Regions from separate parts of the Homo sapiens genome. Here region 1 is linked to region 2. Evidence: fine-mapped expression QTL. A gene starts in region 2. The other region holds a variant in brackets. All regions are shown on one strand. Distances are from middle to middle. Region 1 has its middle 65 kb from the start of ZNF385B. Region 2 holds the start of CWC22 (CWC22 spliceosome associated protein).

What was found. PIP is the estimated chance that this variant, and not a neighbour inherited with it, causes the effect. A credible set is the group of variants that fine-mapping cannot tell apart.
Region 1: its variant is the best candidate, but not a certain one, in a credible set for the expression of CWC22 in whole blood (TOPMed, PIP 0.64).

The regions. Positions count from the first base shown.
Region 1 is chr2:179,924,876-179,929,277 of GRCh38, reverse strand. No RefSeq gene overlaps it. Among named protein-coding and RNA genes, the nearest start is that of ZNF385B, 65 kb to the right of the region's middle. The variant A/C (reference allele first, on the strand shown) is at 2,586.
Region 2 is chr2:180,005,133-180,009,534 of GRCh38, reverse strand. CWC22 (CWC22 spliceosome associated protein) reads left to right here and starts at 2,238. Exons shown (of 20, transcript NM_020943.3): 1 at 2,238-2,668. RefSeq lists an enhancer at 2,558-3,090.

The DNA of each region.
Region 1 (4,402 bases), 80 kb after region 2:
TGGAATGATATGCTTTTCCTGTGTCCCCACCCAAATCTCAACTTGAATTGTATCTCCCAGAATTCCTACATGTTGTGGGACAGACCCAGGGGGAGGTAATTGAATCATTGGGGCTGGTCTTTTCTGTGCTATTCTCATGATGGTGAATAAGTCTCATGAGATCTGATGAGTTTATCAGGGGTTTCCACTTTTGCTTCTTCCTCATTTTTCTCTTGCTGCCACCATGTAAGAAGTGCCTTTTGGCAGGGCGCCATGGCTCATGCCTATAATCCCAGCACTTTGGGAGGCCAAAGTGGGTGGATCACAAGGTCAGGAGATTGAGACCATCCTGGCCAACATGATAAAACATCGTCTCTACTAAAAATACAAAAATTAGCTAAGCATGGTGGCACATGCCTGTAATCCCAGCTACTCAGGTGGCTGAGGCAGGAAAATTGCTTGAACCTGGGAGGCGGAGGTTGTGGTGAGCCAAGATTGTGCCACTGCACTCCTGCCTGGTAACAGAGCTAGACTCTGTCTCAAAAAAAAAAAAAAAAAAAAAAGTGCCTTTTGCTTCCCAACATGATTCTGAGGCCTCCCCAGTATGTGGAACTGTAAGTCCAATTAAACCTCTTTTTGTTCCCAGTTTTTGGTATGTCTTTATCAGCTGCATGAAAACAAACTAATACAGTTAAGGAGGCTTGTATTCTGCTGCCCCTCTTGGTTGCCTAGAAAAGGACAAGCCCCACAGAATTCTTTGTATCACCATAGCACTAGAGAGTAGGTTAGAAATTTCTGAATATAATGAATAGACAGAAGAATCGTAGGAAGTCTTAGAGTCCTTGTAAGACTCAACCAGGAGACGGAAGTAGCCAAAAGACTTTTCTGTGAAGATGACACTGAGAACCTGTGAATTTGTGATGCTGGGCTTCATAACAAGGAGGAAAAAAACACAGCAGCAGATATAATGTGGAACCCATGACTAGAGGACTAATGAAAACTCAGACACTGCTGGATTTTCCAGTGTAGAAGAGTGATGATAACTGAAATATTTCAAGATAGGCCCATGACAATCAGGAATGAGACACTCAACCTAGGGGAGAAAATGAAGAGCAAGAAAATAATGAATTCACTGGATTTACCCAAAATTGACTAGATTAACTTTTCTACTACTAAACAGAAAAGAATTCAAAATAGGTGTTGAATGCAAACAAAACTGTATACCTTATGATCTAGAGCAGAGGGGTTGTAACAATAATGCAGGGCCAGATCATGAAGAGCATCGTTAACTGTGCTATGGGGAGTCATTGAAGGGCTTCAAAGACAGGGACTTACAGGATCAGCTCTGTGATTTAGTGTTTCTCTCTAAGCAATGTGCAGGCTGGATTAAAGAACAGGCATATTAGAGGAAGGTGCCTAAGTGACAGAGTAGGTGGTGGGGAGTCATTGGGAGAGAGATGATTCATTGTTGAGGGACTTGCTTAGGATAAGGTTTAATTACACTAGATCTAATTTCTATGATAGGACACAAAACTTCTATTATATTGAAAGTAACTTTATCAAGAAAAGATTGAGAATCTCTAGGATCAAATCCAAGTTAATGTAATCATAATCCTGCCTGGATATAGGAGAAATAACATAAATTTATCTGAAGAACTTAATTTTGTATAGGAAGATTTAAGAGATAGTCTTATGTTATTTGAATATGTATACTAGCTCCTTTGCATCCACTTAGGGTGTAGAATATAGAAAGTCACAAGGAAACATTGCTCCTACCCTAATAAGAATGAAAGGGGATAACAAATTCATAGGTTTGATTCAGCAAAAGAGCTGAGGATGCAAGAAAAGACTAATGAACTAAATCAAAGTGAGAGAAGAAATCCTCAGCTACTCCATCCTTGTAGAAAAGCTGGAGGAGGAGGAAGCTGCCACAAAAGCAAATAAGAAGAAAATGGCTGAGCTTTTTAACATATTTTTAAAAGCCAAATAAAGGCTGGTATGATGATTCAGAAACCCTAAGTGGCCCATATACAAAGACAGTTTGCTCGTTTCAGATGTTTTCCAAAGGCCTCCACTGAGTCATTGCTGGCAAGATTGGGGAAGGACAGAGAAGTGGAGAGATCTATCCTTCAGAAGCACAGGCTAAAGTATGAAGGAAGACAGGAGAATGGAGGGAATTCCATAAAGCACTATGGGCCTGAGAATGGGGAGCTTTCTATGGTTGGGTGAGGGGTAGGACACTTGTGAGAGATGTCACTGCTCTTCTTAGATACAGGTGTTCTGGGCCTGCTGAAACCTGAAGGTAAAGCAGGACAACTGCGAGAAAACTTCCAGGCATTTCAGGCCTCACAAGTTTAAAGCAGCAGCCTACTGGAGCTGAGAGATAAATTAAAGAGCTGACAGATAATCCCCTGAAAAACAGGTGCACTAGGCATACCAAAGGCTAAAGTCAGGGAAAGAGAACTTAGGCAAACTCTCCAATTACTCAAATCTCAAGCTGTGCTAAAGGGAATATTCTAATCCTACCCTCAAACCTTTGAAGTCTGTGCTGAACTAAATCTAGAGCATCAGAAAGTCTATACTCATCTCAATTACAGATAGTTTAA[A/C]CTTCTCTCATTAACAGCCTGACTGAAAAGAAGGTACCCTTTTCTAAGTGAAAGTTTTATTTGCTTTCATCTCTATTCCTTTATACACAATGTTAGCATTTAATGAAAATTATGAGATACACAAGCAAGTAAAATGACTCATAATCAAGAAAGAAAATAGCCACTTGAATAAGACCCAAAGATGATCGAAATGTTGAACCTATCAAAGTGTTTAAAATAATCATGATAAACTAGCTAATGGTACTAGTAGAAAAGGTGAATAGTATTTGTGAAAAGATAGGAAATAACAGAAAAGCTGTAAAAACTATTTTTAAAAGAGCCTAGATATGAAAAAATATGATGACAAAGATGAAGAATTATTTTGTGGGCTTACAAGCCCAGAGTACATACCACAAGAATGATTTTGTGTACTTGAAGATAGGTCAATAGGAATTATATAAACTGATACAAAGTGAAAAATGAGAGAGGAAAAAGTGGAACACATGTCTGAGATAAGTGAAACAATATAAAATGATCAATCATACATGTAATTTGAGTTATAGAAAGAGAACAAAGAGAATGAGGTCAAAAATCCTAAACTGATGAAAATCCTCAGTGCACGTATTCAAGAAACTCAGCAAACTCTAAGCTGAATAAATACAAATTAAATTACACATAGGCACATCATAGTCAAACTGCTAAAAGAATCCAAGATAAAATGAACATCTTAAAAGCAGCCAGAAAGTAGAAAACACATTGCATACAGATTAATGACAATAAGAATGTTGACAGACTACTCATTAGAAACAACTGAAGGCTAGAAGACAATGGAACAATAGCTTCTAAGTGCTGAAAGAGTAAAACTACAATCTAGTATTCTATACCCAGCAAAAGAATCTTCAAGCATGAAGGTGAAATAAAGACATTTGCACATGTAGAAAATATGGAACGATATTCCTCTTTATCAGACCTGCAATTAAATTAATCCTAAGAGAATTTCTTAAGACTGAAGAAAAAATATTCCAGAGAGGAAAGGTACCAGATAAAAATTACCAAATAGAAATATATGTATATTCAAATTTCATTTAAAAACTATTGGTTGTTTAAATAAAAATTAATAGCAGTATATTATGGGATTCATAGCATAAATAAAAGTTGAATGTGTGAAAAGAATAGCACAAAGTGAGGGAGGGCAGTAATTAGAAGTTCTTTGTTGTAAGCTGCTTATGCTATCGATGAAGTCATAAATTAATTGCGAAGATATACTATGAAAGATAAAGATGCAGTCAGTCTTAGTCGACTCAGGCTGCCATAACAAAATATAGTAGACTGGATGGCTTAAACAACTGACATTTATTTCTTATAGTTCTGGGGGTTGAGAAGTTCAAGATCAAGGTGCCAGCCAATTTTGTTCCTGGTGAAGGCTCTCTTCCTGGCTACTTTCTCACTATGTCCCCATACAGTGGAGAGAGAAAGCAAGCAAGTTCTCTGGTCTCTTCTTACAATGGTAATAACTATATCACGAGGACCCCACCCTCATGACCTCATTTAAGCCTAATTACCTTTCAAAAGCCTCATCTCCAAATACTAACACATTGGGGGTTAGAGTTTCAATATATGAATTTTGAGGGAACACAATTCAGTCCATATAGTTGTGAATTGTAATCTCCACAAAGAGGTGCAACTAAAAAGTCAATTGAGAAGCTAAAATAGAATATATTATAAAAGACTTGATTCACTCAAGAGATGATAGAAACAGATATAAAGAGAAAATGGGACAGATAGAAAAAAAATCACAAACATGATAGAATTAAACACAAACACATCAATAATTGCAT
Region 2 (4,402 bases):
TGAATAGTGGAGAAGAGAGGCAATGGATTCAGTGTGGCCTCAGGACCCAAAGATGGGGAGTGTAGTTTGTCTCACTAACTTGCCACTTCTAAATTTTTTTTAGGAAGAAATGTGCACTAGAACCCTGGAAAAGTTGTTCCTGAAAGGTGTATGGAGACTGGGTGTATGGAGACTGTGACAGGCACAGAGAGATGCTGCTCAGATACCTCTTCAAGAAAGGACTTGCTTGTAGCCTAGCTGCAAGCAGTGTGGTTAGGTGACAGCCTTCAACTGTTGAATCTTCATGTCCACCTTGGGTTTTTAGTTGAGGCCACACTCTTCTTGGGGTGGCTCTAGCCAGTGACTGAGCAAAACTGGTACAAGGGCCTAGCCATTTCATCCCATTGTAGGCCTCTTCATCTTTATTCTGGAGCTACTATTTCCTCCATTTTCCTTTCACCTTTATTATTCATAACTCTTTCTCAGTGTCTGCTTCCTGAAGGACCCAACTGACAAATCCAATTCTTTTCCAGCTCCATCTAGTTCTCCTCTGCTCAACCCTAACTTTCCTATTTCTGTTGATAGTTGTAGAGGTAGTATATTCATCAGGGTTCCCTAGAGGGACAGAACTAATAGGATATAGATAGATAGATAGATAGATAGATAGATAGATAGATAGATACACACACACGCACACACACACGTATATATATCCTATTACATATATATCCTATTTTTTATATATATCCTTATATATATATCCTAATATATATATCTATATATAAGGATATATATATAAAAAGGGGAGTTTATTAAGTATTAACTTACACAATCACAAGGTCCCACAATAGGCTGTCTGCAAGCTTGAGGAGCAAGGAGAGCCAGTCTGAGTCTCACAACTGAAGAATTTGGAGTCCAATGTTTGAGGGCAGGAAGCATCCAGCATGGGAGAAAGATATAGGCTGGGAGGCTAGGCCAGTCTTGCCTTTTCATATTTTTCTGCCTGCTTTATATTCGATGGTAGCTGATTAGATTGTTCCCACCAGATTAAGGGTGAGTCTGTCTTCCCCAGTCCACTGACTCAACTGTTAATCTCCTTTGGCAACACCCTCACAGATACACCCAGGATCAATACTTTGCATCCTTCAATCCAATCAAGTTGACATTCAGAATTAACCATCACCGGTAGTATTGTGGGTTTTTAAATATATGAATACAAATGTTCATCTCCAGATCCATCTCCTGTGCCCTGTATTGGTGCACCAAAATGCACCATCAACAATGGCCAAATATCTTAAATATGAAATAAAATAGATAACACTATTGTATACTAGCAATTATCTTAAATGCATCTTGTGTATCAACTAATTCAATTCTTAAAACTACTGCCTGGATGGATACTATTGGTATTTCCATTTAACAGATCAGGAAACGGCCACAGAATGTGAAGTTACTTGCCCCAGTCATCCATAAATAATAAAAGGACTCAAGATTCAAAATAAGTAGTCCAACTGCAGTGTTTTTATTCTTAATCATCACACTCTGCCTCCAGAAAGGAGTGGAAGCACAGCACCCTAAAACTGTAATAGAGAAGTGTGTGGAGAAACCAGTCCTGGTTTATGAAAGATTTGATAACATAAAGATATTCTTGGTTTAGGAAGAGAGTTTCCAAAATAGCAAGTAGTTGAACTTTTAGGTTTTGTTACTAGTGAAAAGTGAAGTTTAAAGAAACTGTTTGATGCCCTAGTTCTGCACGCTGTACAAACTGCTACTTCCTACTCAGCCAGGCAATCTCTTTATTCTCAGGTCATACCAGTTGGTACCTTAACCTAAAAGAGAGGCAACACAGTCTCTATAGAATTAGTTTTTCCTCATTATTTCACTCTATTTATGATTTAATATTCTCCCATTCTTATGGCCTGGATATCTTGGAATTTATTAGGCACTTAACTGTTGGTCAAACTCTTATAAAGTCTCAGGAAAATCTCTCTCTTAAGATTTTTCAAGGAAAGTGACAACTGACTGCTTTTTTAAAAAAAATTTCCCCAAAATGCAGTGAAATAGTTTTAAAGTAAATTCGGCTAGACCCTGAACACTACTAGGCTGCCAGTGAGCAGCGTGGATGTTAACTCGCTGGCGCGCATCTGTATGAACTACAATTCCCATCGTACACCGCGCCATTTCACGCTAAACTACAATTATGCTTTCCTCATTTCCGTCAGCACAGGCGCTGGATTTCGGACTTTGTAGTTCATGCCAACTTCTCTTTTTTGTCGCCATTTTGGCAACAAGACAGTGTGCCTGGATCGACTACTTTGACTCTGGTATTATGATATGGTATTTGAAATAAATTAAAGGGATAACGTGTCAAGCCAATTGAGCGTCAAGTTTTTAAATATTTCACTATTCGCCTTCTTCCTACCGTCGGTGCTCGGGAAGAGGAAGTGACGTACGTCCGGTGTAATGGCGGCGCGGTGGAGCTCTAGGTAATTATCGAACTCCGTGGAGTCCCCGCAGGCAGAGACGCGGAGTGGGGGTGGCGGGTCGCCGGATCGGGTGGGAAGTAAAAGACCCCCAGGAGTGGGTGCGGGCTCACTGATACGGCTGTGAGCGGCATTGGAGTGTGCGTGGGTCTTCTCGCTACGCTCGGGCCCGCAAGAGGGGTGTGAGAGCGGCTAGGTCCAAGCAGGTGGGGAGGGAATGGGCTGCCATGAACTGACTGCCTGAGCGGACCGGCTGACCTTCCTTGTGAAGTTCCTGGAGCTGTCTGAAATCCTGCACCAACGCTGGTGCTGTGTTGTTTCTTGTGCACTGCGTTTTATACTTAGAGCCTCTGGAGTCCATTGGGGCTTGCCAAAGCCCCTTTCCTAGTGCCCGGGTCCCAGGGTCAGGGGAGTGGGATTAATGAGATCTAGTTGATTAAAAGTTAGTTGAATTACTTGCACTCTTATGCCTCTTGCCGGCATTATATCCCTTTGACTATTTGTTTTAAATTTCATTAGCGTCTTCTTTTTCATTTATTTGCCCTGTAAATACTGATAGTGTCTAGTGTTTAGTCTTGAAGACACTTCGCTTCTCATGTGCCCGCTTCATCTGTCATTCTTGATCCTTCCATAACTTGAACTATCTCCAGTGAGGTAATAACTGCCAAACTTGGGTCTCCAGGCTCCACCTCTCTAACGAGCTCTGGGTCCTACAACACAGCATTATATAACGGAAATATAATAGTTAATTTCACTGAGTTTAACTGCAAAAACCACGGTACCTATTTCCATTTAATCCTAACAATTCTTCTGAGGTAAGTGGAGAAGGCAGGATTTGGAGAAAGGCTATTCTAGATGCAAGAATTAGGTAAGAGTTTCCTTTGCATTTTTAGATGTGCAGAGACTCGAAATAGCAGATAAGCAAGCAAACTTGGTTCTCAGCAGATCAGTTAACCTACCTCTTATCTGTATTTAGACTTACCTTGTTTTAGGATTGCTTGTGAATTCAGGAGTTAACATAAATTATCATCCTACTATGGAAGGGCAGATTTAAAATTGACATTAAAAGTGTGGTTTTGACCAGGAGAGGAGAAGCATTGTTACAGGCGTTATCAGTAGGTGGAGGAAAGCCACTTGTGTTGGTCCTGGGTGATGGACTAGTAGACCAAAGATTTCTGTTTTATCCAGCTATTATTAGGTCTGTCACTTGGAGCAAGTTACCTAAAGTCTCTAGTGTCAGCTTCATCATCTGGAAACATGTAGGTAGTAATACAATACCTGCCTCACTGTATTGTCTTTTTTTGAGTATAAAGAAAAATAATGCAGATGAGGCACTGAGCACAGCGTTAGCGTTGTATTATTGTAAATTACTACTATGATACAGTTGATGAGTTCTCTCTGTTCCTCAATTCTTGTTCTCTGGTTCTGAATGTTGCCTTTCCACCTGTAAGTGTCCTTCCAGTTGTTTTTTGTTTTTTGTTTTGTTTTGTTTTGTTTGAGACGGAGTCTTACTCTGTCGCCCAGGCTGGAGTGCTGTGGCGCTATCTCGGCTCACTGCAAGCTCCGCCTCCCTAGTTCATGCCATTCTCCTGCCTCAGCCTCCCAAGTAGCTGGGACTAAGGTGCCCGCCACCACGCCTGGCTAATTTTTTGTATTTTTAGTAGAGACGGGGTTTCACTGTGTTAGCCAGGATGGTGTCTGTCTCCTGACCTTGTGATCCACCCGCCTCGGCCTCCCAAAGTGCTGGGATTACAGGCGTGAGCCACCGCTCCCGGCTAGTGTCCTAGTTTTAAGTGTCCATGCCACTTTAATGGAGTCTTTCCCAACTCAGTTGACTGGGGCTCTGAGACTGTCTTGGTTATAAGTTAAAGGCCAAGAACTTTGATCTAATACACTGGTGTATTGGTTCCAAAAATGTCTTCTGAATCAGCAGCATCATC